2 separate regions of the Homo sapiens genome follow, and region 1 is linked to region 2. The links come from fine-mapping of genetic effects on gene expression. Tissue or cell type: blood mononuclear cells. Region 2 holds a variant in brackets; the other region holds the start of a gene. All regions are shown on one strand. Distances are from middle to middle.

The links. PIP is the estimated chance that this variant, and not a neighbour inherited with it, causes the effect.
Region 1: RBM23 starts here. The variant in region 2 is fine-mapped to the expression of RBM23 in blood mononuclear cells (TOPMed, PIP above 0.99).

What each region holds. Positions count from the first base shown.
Region 1 is chr14:22,914,471-22,922,551 of GRCh38, forward strand. RBM23 (RNA binding motif protein 23) reads right to left here and starts at 4,679. Exons shown (of 14, transcript NM_001077351.2): 1 at 4,529-4,679. It overlaps PRMT5 (protein arginine methyltransferase 5), which reads right to left. Exons shown (of 17, transcript NM_006109.5): 15 at 7,973-8,081; 16 at 7,706-7,770; 17 at 6,059-6,586. The coding sequence ends at 6,434. PRMT5-AS1 (PRMT5 antisense RNA 1) reads left to right here and starts at 4,986. Exons shown (of 2, transcript NR_120600.1): 1 at 4,986-6,650. RefSeq lists enhancers at 2,731-3,495, 3,984-4,153, 4,224-4,333, 4,424-4,493 and a silencer at 4,754-5,053.
Region 2 is chr14:22,938,235-22,946,333 of GRCh38, forward strand. It overlaps HAUS4 (HAUS augmin like complex subunit 4), which reads right to left. Exons shown (of 10, transcript NM_001166269.2): 10 at 7,994-8,099. All of the region lies in intron 2 of PRMT5-DT (PRMT5 divergent transcript), which reads left to right. Among named protein-coding and RNA genes, the nearest start is that of TRR-ACG1-3, 13 kb to the left of the region's middle. The variant G/A (reference allele first, on the strand shown) is at 3,144.

The sequences.
Region 1 (8,081 bases), 24 kb before region 2:
GACACAGCGAGACTGTCTCAAAAATACAAAAACAAACAAATCTTTGGGAGTGATGGTTTCACGGGTGTTTAACATATCAAAACGCATGAAAGTGTACACTTTAATGTATACAGTTTTATCGTGTGCCCATTAAATGTACCTCAATCATGCCGTTAAAAAAAAAAACCTGAGGAATTTCTATGCAAGGAGGCTATCATAATCAGACTTTTTCATAACTGTAAGAACTTTGTTGGCCAGCCGTGGTGGCTCACCCTGTAATCCCAGTACTTTGGGAGGCCAAGGTGGGTGGATCACCTGAGGTCAGGAGTTCAATACCAGCCTGACGGATATGGTGAAACCTCATCCCCATTAAAGACACAAAAATTAGCCGGGCATGGTGGTGGGCGCCTGTAGTCCCAGCTACTCAAGAGGCTAAGACAGGAGAATCGCTTGAACCTGGGAGGCAGAGGTTGCAGTGAGCCGAGATCACACCACTGCACTCCAGCCTGGGTGTAAGATGGAGTAAGACTCCATCTCAAAAAAAAAAAAAAAAAAGAGGAACTTTGTCCTCTTTAAAGCAGCTAATGCACTATGCAACAATGCTGCCTTGGTTGCCCTAAGAGTCCATATCCTATTTTGACAATTAAATAAGTGTAATAATTACAACTATGATTCTATGACTTACAGTACCTACAACTGCTAGACACTGTGCTAAGCATGTTATGGAGAGAGAAGATTCTTAGAGAAAAATTACTTGGAGCCAAATTTAAGGCTTAAATGGAAATTAAACCCAAATCAAATTGGTATACATAAAAACCAGTAAACTCAATTGCCTCTGCCTCCCAGGTTCAAGCAACTCTCCTGCCTCAGCCTCCTGAGTAGCTGGGATTACAGGCATGCGCCACCACATCCAGCTAATTTTGTATTTTTAGTAGAGACCAGGTTTTCCGTGTTAGTCAGGCTGGTCTCGAACTCTCGACCTCAGGTGATCCGACCGCCTCGCCCTCCCAAAGTGCTGGGATTACAGGCATAAGCCCCATGCCTGGCTTTTTTTTTTTTTTTTTGAGAAGGAGTCTAGCTCTGTTGTCCAGGCTGGAGTGCGGTGGCACAATCTCAGTTCACGCCAACCTCTGCCTCCCAGGTTCAAGCGATTCTCCTGCCTCAGCCTCCTGAGTAGCTGGGATTACAGGTGCCCGCCACTACGTCCCACTAATTTTTGTATTTTTAGTAGAGACAAAGTTTCACCATGTTGGCCAGGCTGGTCTCAAACTCCTGACCTCAGGTAATCCGCCTGCCTCGGCCTCCCAGTGCTGGGATTACAGGCATGAGCCACTGTGCCCGGCCTTCTACTTCTTCCAGTAACACTTTATATTTATTTAGCAATCAAAGGTAACAAATGCTGCAGACAGGTAATATATGATTCATACCCAAATTTTTTAAAACTAACGTTTTTTGAACTGCTCAAAGTCATACATAGCTCAAGGGCCAGGCAGAGGGGGTGGCTCACGCCTGCAATCTCAGCACTTTGGGAAGCTAAGGCTGGAGAATGGCTTGAGGCCAAGTCAAAATCAGCCTGGGCAATACAGTGAGGCCCCATTTTTACAAAAAATATAAAAATTAGCCACGCATGGTGGTGCGTGCCTGTAGTCCCAACTACTCAGGAGCCTGAAATGGAAGGATCGCTTGAACCCAGGAAGTTGAGGCTGCAGTGAACTGTGATCATGCCGCTGCAATCCAGTCTGTGCAGCAGATTGAGATTCTGTCTCAATCCCCAAAACAGAGAAGGTCACACAGCTCAAAGGGAAGAATGTTTTTTTTTTTTTTTGAGACAGGATTTCACTCTGTTGCCCAAGCTGGAGTGTAATGTTGCAATCTCGGCTCACTGCAACCTCTGCCTCTCTAGCTCAAGCAATCCTCTAACCTCAGCTTCCCCAGTAGCTGGGACCACAGGTGTGCACTATGATGCCAGGCTAACTTTTCATATTTTGGGCTTTTTTTTTTTTTCTGGTAGAGACATGGTCTCACTATGTTGCCCAGGCTGGTCTCAAACTCCCGGACTCAACAGATCCACCCACCTTAGCCTCCCAAAGTACTAGGATTACATCTGGCCAGAGGAGCTAATTCTTGATCAGAAAGGTTTTCTGACTTCAAATCTAACATTATATCTATTATATCAGATTACTTCTCATATGGTTTGTAATTAACTTTAAAGGAAAAAAAAAAGGACACAGTATACCAAGATACCTACTTTTAAATATATACTCACTGAACATGAATGTTCTTCTCATATGTTTATCAAAATAATCAGTCCCATTAGCTAAACCTCATTGTGAGTCTCCTATATCTGAGGCATGTACAGTGTATGCTTAAAGGTATTAGACTAATATACACTATGGGAAAATAGTTCTAAAAAGAAAAGTTTGTTTTTGTTTTTTTTTGAGAGAGTTTCACTCTTGTTGCCCAGGATGGAGTGCAATGGCGCAATCTCGGCTCACTGCGACCTCCACCTCCCAGGTTCAAGCAATTCTCCTGTCTCAGTCTCCCAAGTAGCTGGGATTACAGGCAGGCACCACCACACCTGGCTAATGTTGTATTTTTAGCAGAGACGGGGTTTCTCCACATTGGTCAGGCTGGTCTCGAACTCCTGACCTCAGGTGATCCGCCTGCCTGGTCCTCCCAAAGGGCTGGGATTACAGACATGAGCCACCGAGCCCGGCCTAAAAAGAAAAGTTTTTTATACTCAAGCTGTTTCAGTCATTTTTGCTGCCAAGTCTACACAAATTTTCTGTTATGAACTATTTTTTACAATCTGCTTTTTCCCCTCCAAATGAAATGCTTGATTTCAAGAACTGCTCATTGTTGAGTGCTAATGCGGGGTAAGAACAACTTAACACACACACTAAAACTTACACTTAAGTTTACAAGCCTCTACAAATAAACCTCTACGTAAAAAGTTTTCACTCAGAAACAAATATATCCGTTTAAGCAAAGCCATATACAACACAATATTTTGAAACTTGCAATCTCACTGGGTTTAGTGTCTTTCTAGATGTGCTAAAAGCAATAAGGTAGCAAACACTATGCATTTTCAGGCTGGTAGTTTTTTCTTTTTTCTTCTTTTTTGTTTTTTTTTTGTATTTTTAGTAGAGACGGGGTTTCGCCGTGTTAGCCAGGATGGTCGCGATCTCCTGACCTCGTGATCCGCCCGCCTCGGCCACCCAAAGTGCTGGGATTACAGGCGTGAGCCACTGCACCCGGCCCAGGTTGGTAGTTTTCAAACGCTCTCTTCATGTCCCAACTTATGGGTCAAGGTCCACTCAATCTCATCCACATAGAGTATGTTTTCTTCCATCCTGCTCCAAAAACAGTATTAGAGACCCACAATCACGTCAGTTCCTAGACCTCGTCATAGCACAAGCCAACAGATAGACCCCACTGCTAAAGGAGCAGAGAGAACCACTGTCAGACCAATTCGGGAAGAATTCACGAAAAGCTGGAGCCCCAGGGGTGATGGTAGCGCCATCCCCAGGGTCTGATCACTTAGCTGGGCACAAACACCTACAAACTGAAGGCAGCTTAACAAAAGAGGAACAATGAGAACGATAAAAGCTACTTGAAGGACCACCCTCCCCATGTTGTGTAGCTTTAAAAAATGGTCCTATAGGCCGGGCGCGGTGGCTCACGCCTGTAATCCCAGCACTTTGGGAGGCCGAGGCGGGTGGATCACCTGAGGTCAGGAGTTCGAGGTCAGCCTGGCTAACATGGCAAAACCCCATCTCTATTAAAAATACAAAAATTAGCCGGGCGTTGTGGCAGGCGCCTGTAATCCCAGCTACTCGGGAGGCTGAGGCAGGGGAATCGCTAGAACCCGGGAGACAGGATGCAGTGAGCCGAGATCGCGCCACTCCACTCCAGCCTGGGTGACAAAGCGACACTCCGCCTTAAAAAAATAAAAAAAAAGAGGTCCTATAGGCAACCAACTGGCACAATCTCTGCGGGAGCCAGTGTCCCAGGGCTCAATCTTCATATGTGGCATCATAATACGCCTACTGGAATGAGTGCTTGAAAAAGTTAAATGGGAAAAGCCCATAAAGGTCAACATAGTGAACATGAATCTTCGACAGACTAGAGATTGAGGAAGAAAGCTCAATTCCCTTCTCTCTCTCTGAATGGTGGTGCGAGTGGCTGAAACTGATGATGCGTGTCCTCTCAGGCCGCGGAGGGTCGATGCTCCCTCTCCAGTGTGGGCGACCCTAAGTGTCACGGCTGCAGAGACCCGGAAAGAAAAATCACAGGATTCTAGAAACCGCATCTTTATCGGTGCAAGATACAGCCACGAGGGTGCCCAACTCTAAAATCGTGGCAGTGGGCTACATTTAAGTAGCTAACACTTCCAGGTCAAAACAAACAAAGGTTTTTTTAATGTTAAAAGTTCGCCTGAATCTCTTCGTGACGCCATTTTCTGCCCGTGACGTCAGGGGGGAGGCGCCGTGCAGCAACGTCACGCATTGGTGACGTCTGGTGGGGACCGGGTTTTGGGGTTTCTCACCAGTTCCGGGTCCCCGCAGGGGGGTCCCGGTTCTCTCCGTTCCTTTGAGTATGTTGTGGGGAGTGGAGCTCGGATAGTTCCTAGAGTCTAGGCAAGAAAAGCAGCACTGCAGGTACAGAGCCTCCTCTTCCCGCAAAATGGCGGCAGCTCTGCCGTCTTCCAGAACCTTCCCCAATCTGCGCATGCGCCAAGACTCCCCGGCTTTGGAAATAACCTCACTGGTTTCGCGGCAACCGTCCAAAGTACAGGTTCTCATTGGCTAAAGTCCTAAGTATGGGTGGAGCAAACTCAAATGCGTCTTAGCAACCACCGAGTTCCCATTGATTGGCTAACCTCAGAGACTCCAGAAAATGGAAGCGTCCTTTGGTAGCCGCCCATCACTCTCTCATTGGTTAAATGACTTGCGGAGGGCGGGGAAAACGGGACTGAAAACGGGAGTGAAGAAGCCACCAACCCCACTCCTGGTGCTCGCGTAGACTAGACCAGTGCGATGGGCGGAGCCAACGAGGAGGCACAATTTACATCCTTGGCCGTCCCTACTCGGATTTGCTGAAGGAGTCACGTCGGTCGTTAAGGTTAAGCTTTGTAGAGAACAGCGGCGTTTGTTTAACGTCCGGGGATGCTGAACTCGAAATCCCCGTTCTGAGCCGGCTACCTAAACAACCTTCCCGACCACCTCTCCTGACCTCGGTGCTTGGGACCAGGGAAAAGCAGATCTTGCCACAGACTTGTCTTGGCCCACACTCTGCCCTATCGTCATGGCCTGCTCCCACAGGTCATAACTTCCGTTCAAATCAGTACCCCCACATTTCCCACTGCAAGGGTAAATTTGAAAGTTTCTCAGGTGACTCCTTGGATGTAGCAGTACTGAGTCCTCTAACCGGAAAGAAGGAACTGATGTCCACCCTCACTTTCCAGGGGCCTCCAGGAGCCCCTAGACACTTCTGTGGTCTACTGTAGCTACCAAAAATGTAGCTGGTTATAACATGGGGAGAGCCAGAGTCGGAGGACCTGACTTCCAATTCTGACTTGGATACTAATATCACATCATTGTACCCATTTCAAACTCCCCCTCTGTAAAATGGAAAATTGGACTAGATGATCTCTTAGGACTTCAAACTGTAACCCTGTGGTTTTATTCAAAAAAAACAGGTAGCTTCTTGCTGGAGATTCCTGGATGGATTCCAGTCTTCCCAAGAGGTAACAAAGGAGAGGTAACCAGTTGCCCGTGCAGTAGCTCAAGAATACAGAAGAGAAACTGGCTTCACTCACTATTCCATCTTTTTCCAAGGTGGCAAACTCTATGCCTCCTCCCCAGAGAAAAGCCTAACTGTAGGTTCTAATGGACAAGAGCTCACTGTAGCTGGTCAGAAAGGCCTATATCCAGGACTACAATAGTCATTGCTCAGCTTCCTAAGTAGGGAATACAACTAGGCCCCTTTGGGTCTTGGATAGGCTAAGAGGACAGATCTGAACATGCCTGGGTCTAAGTGAGGTGTGGGAAAATAGTGGCAGGGGGCAGCATGGTCGTGCAGTAAAGGGCTATAACTTTATTTGTATTTCCTCTTACACAAAACCATCAAAACAAGAACAGAAAAAGGCTGAAAATCCGTTCAAACCCCATGTTCTCAGGGATATTCCAGGGAGTTCTTGAGGCTGAGTGCGTAGCTTCAAATCCAGCACTAATTCCTCACCCCCTGGCCTGAGGTCTTCATAGATTGGTGGCTTGAGCCCTGCAATTAATTATAATCCCTTGCCCACCTTGATGTAAGGCAGGAAAGCAGATTGAAATGCTCCTCTCTGATGGGCAAGGGGAATCACAGCCCATAGATGTACTGCACCTTCTGTACTACAGGAGCAGAACCTGAAGCTGCTTCCAAGGCTCTGGACACTTGGCACGCAGGGCTAGAGGCCAATGGTATATGAGCGGCCTGTGGGGTTATGAATAGCAGAACAGACTGGTGCTGTCACAGCCCACTCATACCACACCTTCTTGGAATTGCTGCATCGCCAGAAACGCACACAGATGGTTTGGCCTTCACGTACCGTTATGGGCTGCTGTAAGAAGAAAGACAGGAAGGTTCAGGGTGAAGCTATGAATTATACATGGCAATGTATTAAGGTAGGTGTGGAGATAAAATGATAAACATGACAAGACTGTCCCAACCCTCATGAAAGTTATTTGAAGCCTATCAGAACACAAATAATCAAAGGTGTGGTGAGAGCTGTGAACATGTACAGAGTCAGAAAAACACCTATGAAAGGGAACACTAACCTAGTCTAGGAGATCAGAGAAAGTTTATCTCACAATAAAAATGTTTAAAGAAGACCTAGAAGATAGGTTAACTGTGTGAAGAGACAAGCAAAGAACTCTACAGGCAAGAGAAAGGCATGAAAGCCTGAGGTAGGAAAGAAGATAGACAATTAGAACAAAAAGAAGGTCCATAAGGCTGAAGCAGTGTAAGCAAGGGGACAGTAGCTGCAAAGGCAAGCAAACACTCGATCACATCAAGTCTTACAAGCAATGTCCCAGATTTTGACTTTTATCCTAAAGACAATGGGAAGGCATTGAAGAGTTTTAAGCAAAAAAGAGAGATAAGATCAGGCCAGGCGCGGTGGCTCACGCCTGTAATCCCAGCACTTTGGGAGGCTGAGGTGGGCGGATCATGAGGTCAGGAGATCGAGACCATCCTGGCTAACACGGTAAAACCCCGTCTCTACTAAAAATACAAGAATTAGCCGGGTGTGGTGGCTGGCACCTGTAATCTCAGCCTCAGGGAGGCTGAGGCAGGAGAATGGCATGAACCCGGGAGGCGGAGCTTGCAGTGAGCCGAAATTGTGCCACTGCACTCCAGCCTGGGCGACAGAGTGAGACTCCGTCTCTTTAAAAAAAAAAAAAAAAAAAAGACAGCAAGAGAGATAAGATCAAATTTGAGTTTTTAAAAGATGACTCTTGCTCAAAGTAGAGAACAGACAGAAGAGTAGCCAGAGTAGATGCGGGAAAGCCAGGCAGAAGGCCACTCCAAATACTCCCAACACCTACCACTGGGATCCAAGAGCATATGAAATCAGGAGAACATGAGTCATAGTCAACTATCTTCCTGGGAGAAGGAAAGAAGCACAACACCAAAGGCAAAGGTTACTGCTTAACTAGAGAGTCTTAAAAGCAGTTCCTACCTTAATAGGGAAGAGGATGGGAAACCATGAGAACATCCCAGGAGAGTGAGTCTCTGGACGGATACCTGTGTGGACAAAATAATGAAAAAACAGAGGTCTCCATGGCTGTGACTTTTGCCTATGCTGAAGAGGGTCTCTTCTCTAATCACACAAAGATCTCCATTCATTGAGCACTGGGCCCCCCATAAATCTAAATGACACATGTACATATAAGCTGCCCAGGAAGCACACCCTCATACTCTGCCATCTACTGCCATAGACACTCACTCAGAGTGATGTCCTGATAAAGCACAGTCTCAAAGTAGCCGGCAAAGCCATGTAGTACTGTGTTCACCTCCACAGGAAATTCCAAGGTGCAATAGCGGTTGTTGTCAAT
Region 2 (8,099 bases):
TATTAATTAAGCTCTACCACATGCCAGGCACTTTAAATATATTATCTCAAAAGGCTGGGCGCAGTGGGTCATACCTGTAATCCCAGCACTTTGGGAGGCCAAGGTCAGCAGATCACTTGATGTCAGGAGTTCAAGAACAGCTTGGCCAATATAGTAAAACCCCATCTCTACTAAAAACACAAAAAAATTAGCTGAGCCTGGTGGTGCACTTATAATTGTAGTTACTTGGGAGGCTGAGGCAGGAGAATCGCTTGAACCCAGGAGGCGGAGGTTGCGGTGAGCCAAGATAGCGCCATTGAACTCCAGCCTGGGCAACAAGAGCGAAACTCCTTCTCAAAAAAAAAAAAAAAGAAAAAAAAGGAAACAAATATTTTAAAATTTTCTCAGCCCGTTGCAGTGGCTTACCCTTGTGATCCTAACACTTTTGGGAGGCAGAGGTGGGAGGACTGCTTGAGCCCAGGAGCTCCAGACTAACCTGAGCAACAGAGTGAGACCACGTCTCTGCAAAACAAAACAAAACAAAAACCCAGCATGGTGGCACGTGCCTGTAGTCCTAGCTACTAGGGAGGCTGTGGTGGGAGGATCCTTTGAGCCAAGGAGGTTGAGGCTGCAGCTGCACTCCAGCCTGGTTGACAGAGTAAGACCCTGTCTCCCAGAAAAAGAAAACAAACAAGCAAAAAAACTGGGCAAAGGACATGAACAGACACTTCTCTAAAGAAGACATAGATGTTGCCAACAAATATATGGAAAAAATGTTCAATATTACTAATCATTAGAGAAAGGCAAATCAAAACCGCAATAAGATACCATCTCACACCAGTCAGAATGGCTATTATTAAAAAGTCATGCCGGGCGCAGTGGCTCACACCTGTAATCCCAGCACTTTGGGAGGCCGAGACGGGTGGATCACGAGGTCAGATCGAGACCATCCTGGCTAACACAGTGAAACCCTGCCTCTACTAAAAATACAAAAAATTAGCCGGGCGCAGTGGCGGGTACCTGTAGTCCCAGCTACTCGGGAGGCTGAGGCAGGAGAATGGCGTGAACCCGGTAGGTGGAGCTTGCAGTGAGCAGAGATCGTGCCACTGCACTATAGCCTGGGCGACAGAGCAAAACTCTGTCTCAAAAAAAAAAAAAAATGAAAATTAAAAAGTCATGGCTGGGCTGGGCACGGTGGCTCATGCCTGTAATCTCAGCACTTTGGGAGGCCAAGACGGGTGGATCACCTGAGGTCAGGAGTTCGAGACCAGCCTGACCGACATGGTGAAACCCCGTCTCTACTAAAGATACAAAAAAATTAGCCGGGCGTGGTGGCAGGCGCCTGTAATCCCAGCTACTCGGGAGGCTGAGGCAGGAGAATCGCTTGAACCCAGGGGGTGGAGGTTGCAGTGAGCCGAGATCATGCCGCTGTATTCCAGCCTGGGTGACAGAGCAAGACTCCGTCTCAAAAAAAAAAAAAAAAAAGAAAGAAAGAAAGAAAAATAAATTAATGTGAGAATAGAAAACAAAACACCGCTAGTTCTCACTTATAAGTGAGAGCTAAACATTGAGCACACACGGACATAAAGATGGAAATAGACACTGGGGACTGCTAGAAGGGGAAGGGAGGGAGGTACTATGCTCACTAACTGGGTGACGGGATCATTCATACACTAACCCTCAGTGACACACAGTTTACTCATGTAACAAACTTGCACACGTACCCCCTGAGCCTAAAATGAAAGTTGGAAAAAAAAAAAACTGTAGCATTACTTCTGCTTGTTTTCAGCCTGCTGGCCTGCCCTACAGATTTTAGACTTGCCAGCTCCCATAATCACATGAGCCAATGAGCCAATTCTTTAAAATAAATCATATATAGATCTTTTTTTTTTTTTTTTTTTGAGACACAGTCTGACTCTGTTGCCCAGTCTGGAGTGCAGTGGTGTGATCTCGGCTCACTGCAACCTCTGCCTCTAGGATTCAAGCAATTCTCCTGCCTCAGCCTCCCAAGTAGCTGGGACTATAGGCGCGAGCCACCATGCCCGGCTAATTTTTGTATTTTTAGTAGAGACAGGGTTTCGCCATGTTGGCCAGGATGGTCTCAAACTCCTGACCTCAGGTGATCCACCTGCCTCGGCCTCCCAAAGTGCTGGGATTACAGGCATAAGCTACAGCGCCCAGCCAACCTTACTCTTTAGATAACCCTTTTCTAAATCCTAGGCAGGTCATTTGCTGTTGGTTACACACTATTTAGCCAGGCTTGGTAAATTTAGGACTCTCCAAACTTCAGTTGTTTTTTCCTGAGACCAGAAGTTAGCCACTTTGGCTGGACCTCAGCAACTCAAAAACAAACCATCTTTTAGAGTAAATTATTTCTACACATTGTTTAGTCCATTGTAAATTCACTCGTATTTTTGCTGTCTCAAGGGATAAGGAAGCCTGCTAGTTCCTTTAACAAAACCTAGTCCAGGTCCTTCAAGATGGATCATATGGAGAGATTCTTTTTTTTTTCTTTTCGAAAGAGAGTCTTGCTTTGTCGCCCAGGATGGAGTGTAGTGGCCCCATCTCACCTCGCCTTACTGCAGCCTCCACCTCCCAGGTTCAAGCTATTATAATGCCTCAGCCTCCCAATTACAGGTGCGCACCACCACACCTGGCTAATTTTGTATTTTTCAGTAGAGACCTGGTTTCACCATGTTGGCCAGGCTCGTCTCAAACTCCTCACCTCAAGTGATCCGCCTGCCTCAGCCTCCCCTCCAAAAATTGCCGGGATTACAGGCGTAAGCCACCGCGCCCAGCCAATATGGAGAGATTCTTTATAGGGTGAGGGGCACCCTTCTCCTTTGGAGATGCCAAAGTTGGCCCTTAGGGGGCGCTGGGTCTCCTGTTTGTGGTGGCCGAGGAAGAATGCAGTCACTCCCCAGGACACCTCCATATTCACCTTTCACTGAAAATATTCAGGGAACAGATTTTGTTTATCCAAGAGTCCCAGAGTTGATCCTGTTCCAAGTTCTGAAGGTGATTTCCTTTGCCTCTCATTACAAGGGAAGAATCTATAAGACTTACCAGATGTGGTAAGAGGCAAGTAAAGAGAGGTTCGACTGTGAAAGAACGAAGGGAGGCAGTAAATGCAAATCTTTTCTAAGCAGTGTGAGGGAAAGAGA[G/A]CAGCTAAGGTCCAAGATGCTAACCCTCAACTGTCACTTTCTTTTTTTTTGAGAAGGAGTCTCGCTCTGTTGCCAGGCCTGGAGTGCAGTGGCGCGATCTCGGCTCACTGCAACCTCTGCCTCCCAGATTCAAGTGATTCTCCTGCCTCAGCCTCCCGAGTAGCTGGGACTACAGGTGTGCACCACCACGCCTGGCTAATTTTTGTATTTTTAGTAGAGACGAGGTTTTGCCATGTTGGCCAGGATGGTCCCAATCTCTTGACCTCGTGATCCACCTGCCTCAGCCTCCCAAAGTGCTGGGATTACAGGCGTGAGCCATGGCGCCCGGCCCCTCAGCTGTCACTTTCATGCAGACCCTTCTACTTGTCCTCCAAAGCTCCTTCCCATATTTGCCACAATAGAGAGCAGCATGTATGAAGGGCACCTCCAACAAGTCTTCCACCTCCAGTCAATGTGCAGAATGAATGCACCAAGAGAAACAGCTGTAGTGCTCCCTCAGGCCGCAGTGGACATGATTTTTGTTCCTTTTCCCCTACGAAGGAACTGTTTTGAAAGTTTTTTTTTCCACCAGACTACATTCATAAGCTCAATCAGTAGTTTATTTTTTTCTGGTCGGGCGCAGTGGCTCATGCCTGTAATCCCAGCACTTTGAGAGGCCGAGGACAGGCGTGTCACCTGAAGTCAGGAGTTCGAAACCAGCCTGGCCAACGTGGCAATACCCTGTCTCTACTAAAAATACAAAAATTAGCTGTATGTGGTGGCACGCGCCTGTAATCCCAGTTACTCGGGAGGCTGAGGCAAGAGAATCGCTTGAACCTGGGAGGCGGAGGTTGCAGTGAGCCGAGAACATGCCACTGCTCCCAGCCTGGGCAAGAGTCAGACTCTGTCTCCAAAAAAAAAAAAAAAGTTTATTTTTCCCATAAAATAACTAATATACTGATTTACTGTAATACCAGCAGAAAGCAAAGGCACCTGAGCAAGATATATGTGCAATGACATCCAATGAAGCATTTTTGTAACAGGGCAAGAGGGAAACAACCTTAATATCGTGAAGGGAAGGGTTAAATGATAATACAGCCATACTCTAATAATAATATTAGCCACATTTTTAAAACTTTTTCTTTATTGATTTGATTTTTAGAGACAAAGGTCTTGCTCTGTCACCTGGGCTGGAGTACCTTGGCACAATCATAGTTCACTGCAGCCTCTAACTACTAGGCTCAGCCTCCTGAGTAGCTAGGGCTATCAGAGCACCACCATGCCCAGCTAATATTAGCTAATATTTATGTACATATGGTTGCATATTTATAGAAACAGATCTGACACACAGTGATCTACACACCAAATCACTCTGGTTACTCTGGGGAGGTAGATTGGAGTAACAGGGTATTTGTGTGGGGGGTGTCTGAGGGTGCATGGTTCAATCTTTTACTTTTTACTGTATATAATTCTGTTCTGAGTATTTTTACAAAGCATGTGCTCTAGTTGTTTTTGTTTGTTTGTTTGTTTTTTAAGATGGAGTTTCGCTCTTGTTGCGCAGGCTGGAGTGCAATGGCGCGATCTCGGCTCACCGCAACTTCTGCCTCCTGGGTTCAAGCGATTCTCCTGCCTCAGCCTCCCTAGTAGCTGGGATTACAGGCATGTGCCACCACACCCGGCTAATTTTGTATTTTCAGTAGAGACGGGGTTTCTCCATGTTGCTCAGGCTGGTCTCAAACTCCCAACCTCAGGTGATCCACCCACCTCGGCCTCCCAAAGTGCTGGGATTACAGGCGTGAGCCACCACGCCCAGCCTGCATGTGCTCTAGTTTTAAGCCAATGAAGTTTTTTAAAAAATAGTTTGGGCCGGGCGCAGTGGCTCACACCTGTAATCCCACCACTTTGGTAGGCTGAGGCGGGCGGATCACGAGGTCAGGCGATCGAGACCATCCTGGCTAACACGGTGAAACCCCGTCTCTACTAAAAATACAAAAAATTAGCCGGGCGTGGTGGTGGGCGCCTATAGTCCCAGCTACTTGGGAGATTGAGACAGGAGAAGGGCATGAACCCAGGAGGCGGAGGTTGCAGTGAACTGAGATCGGGCCACTGCCCTCCAGCCCAGGTGACAGAGCAAGACTCCGTCTCAAAAAAAAAAAAAAAAAAAAAGTTTGTGCAGGGCCGGGCGCGGTGGTGGCTCACGCCTGTTATCCTAGCACTTTGGGAGGCTGAGGCAGGTGGATCACCTGAAGTCGGGAGTTCGAGACCAGCCTGACCAACATGGAGAAACCTCATCTCTAATAAAAATACAAAATTAGCTGGGCGTGGTGGCGCATGCTGTAATCCTAGCTACTTGGGAGGCTGAGGCAGGAGAATCACTTGAACCTAGGAGGCAGAGATTGCAATAAACCAAGATTGCGCCATTGCACGATCCAGCCTGGGCAACAAGAGCGAAACTCCATCTCAAAAAAAAAAAAAAAAAAAAGTGTGTGGAGAACTGTCGCAAGCAAATGTTCCATTTTCTTTTCTTTTTTTTTTTTTTGAGACAGAGTCTCACTCTGTAGCCCAAGCTAGAGTGAAGTGGCACGATCTTGGCTCACTGCAACCTCCGCCTCCCGGGGCTCAAGCAATTCTCGTGCCTCAGCCTCCTGAGTAGCTGGGACTACAGGCACGCATCACCACACCCAGCTAATTTTTTTATTTTAGTAGAGATGGGGTTTCACCATGTTGCCCAGGGTGGTCTCTAACTCCCGAGCTCAGGCAATCTGCCCACCTCCGCCTCCCAAAATGCTGGGATTACAGGCATGAGCCACTGTGCCCAGCCCATTTTCTTTAGGCTTTTTAAGAATACAAGAAATAGCTCACTCTCCATCCCCATGCCATTTAGAGAGCCAGGGTGAGGACCACTGCCTTGGAAGCCATTTCTCAGGCAGTCGAAATTGAAATGTTTCTCAAACCCCAGCTCTCCAGATTCTCGATTGAAGCTATAGGATATTTGTTTCAAATTTTGTTCACTTGAAATGAAAGCTCTCCTTGGTACATGATTTGCCCATTCTTAACTCTGTGCCTTCCCATAGTGCTTCTTTCCTTTTCTCTGTCTTCGCTGCTTTTTCCATAACTCTATTCCTTTTTCTTTTTTTTGAGACAGAATCTTGCTGTCACTCAGGCTGTAATACAGTGACATGATCATAGCTCACTGTAACCTCAACCTCCCAGACTCAAGCAGTCCTCCCACCTTAGCCTCCTGAGTAGCTGGAAATGTAGGCACATGCCACTATGCACAGCTAATTAAAAAAAATTTTTTTGGCCAGGTGCAGTGGCTCATGCCTGTAATCCCAGCACTTTGGGAGGCCGAGGCGGGCGGATCACAAGGTCAGGAGTTCGAGACCAGCAAGGCCAATATGGTGAAACCCTGTCTCTACTAAAAATACAAAAATTAGCCAGGCGTGGTGGTGGGTGCCTGTAGTCCCAACTACTCAGGAGACTGAGGCAGGAGAATCACTTGAACCCAGGAGGCAGAGATTGCAGTGAGCCGAGATTGCGCCACTGCACTCCAGCCTGGGCGACAGAGCGAGACTCCGTCTCAAAAAAAAAAAAAAAAAAAAAAAAAAAAAAGAGAAAAAAAAGTTGAGTCAAAGACATTAATTGTCTTGTAAATAAATCCACACCATCACCCCAAGACAATTTCCTTGGAAAGTGGTTTCAGAAACTGAGTAGGCTCTTCTAAATAAAGGTAGAGGCCTTCTGTTTCTGTCCACAGTCCCCTATTTTGACACCAGCCAGGACTCTGCCTTGTTCTAAGCTAAGTAGACTGTTGAACTTGGTTCCTCAGGGGGAATCTCCTCCAAACCTCTGCTTTTAGAGAAAAATGTAGCTCTCAAACCACACCAAGGGAACCAGGAACACAAGTGGCTTGTGTCCTTTCCTATAACTGAGCTGGCCACTGGCTGCCTTTTTTTTTTTTTTTTTTTTTTTTGAGACAAGGTCTCACTCTGTCACCCAGGCTGAGTGCAGTGGTGCCATCATGGCTCACTGCAGCCTTGACCTCCTGGGTTCAAGTGATCCTCCTGCCTCAGCCTCCTGAGAAATTGGCACTACAGGCACATACCATCACGCTTGCTAATTAAAAAAATTTTTTTCAGCTGGGTGTGGTTGCTCATGCCTGTAATCCCAGCACTTTGGGAGGCCAAGGTGGGCGGATCACTTGAGGTCAGGAGTTTGAGACCAACCTGACCAACATAGTAAAACCCTGTCTCTACTAAAATACAAACATTAGCTGGCCATGGTGGTGCATGCCTGTTAATTCCAGCTACTAGGGAGGCTGATACACAAGAATTGCTTGAGCCTGGGAGGCGGAGGCTGCAGTGAGCTGAGATCACACCACTGCACTCCAGCCTGGCAACAAAGTAAGACTCTGTCTAAAAAAAAAAAAAAAAAATTTTTTTTCACAGAGACAGGGGTCTTGCTACGTTGCCCAGGCTGGTCTCGAACAGCTGGGCTCAAGTGATCCTCTTGCCTTGGCCTCCCAAAGTGCTGGAATTACAGGTGTGAGTCACTGCTCCCAGCCTCAGCTGCTTTATTATAACTCCCACACTGATACCCATAGTGAGAAAATAGTTCCCTACCTGCCTGAGTATCTAGCACTCCTCTGGAGATTATAGTTCTTCAAGAGCAAGCCCAAATTTAATCCACTGTACTCTTCCAAAATGAAGGCTCTAAGACTTGATGTAGGCAAGCTGGCATGTCTACTTCTTACTCTTTGCATAAGCATCATGTATCTGTTTCTATTTGGATCCACTCAGTTCCCCGCTCCTTACCCATATAGCCTTCAATGTTCTTTTTCAATCTTTGCCCAAGGAAAATGACTAAAATCCTAAGATATAATATCATAACTTTATTCAGGAGATAATCAAATACAATACAGGGCTGACACTGACACACAGCTATGCATAAAAATTATATAAATCTCCTTGCTAGATT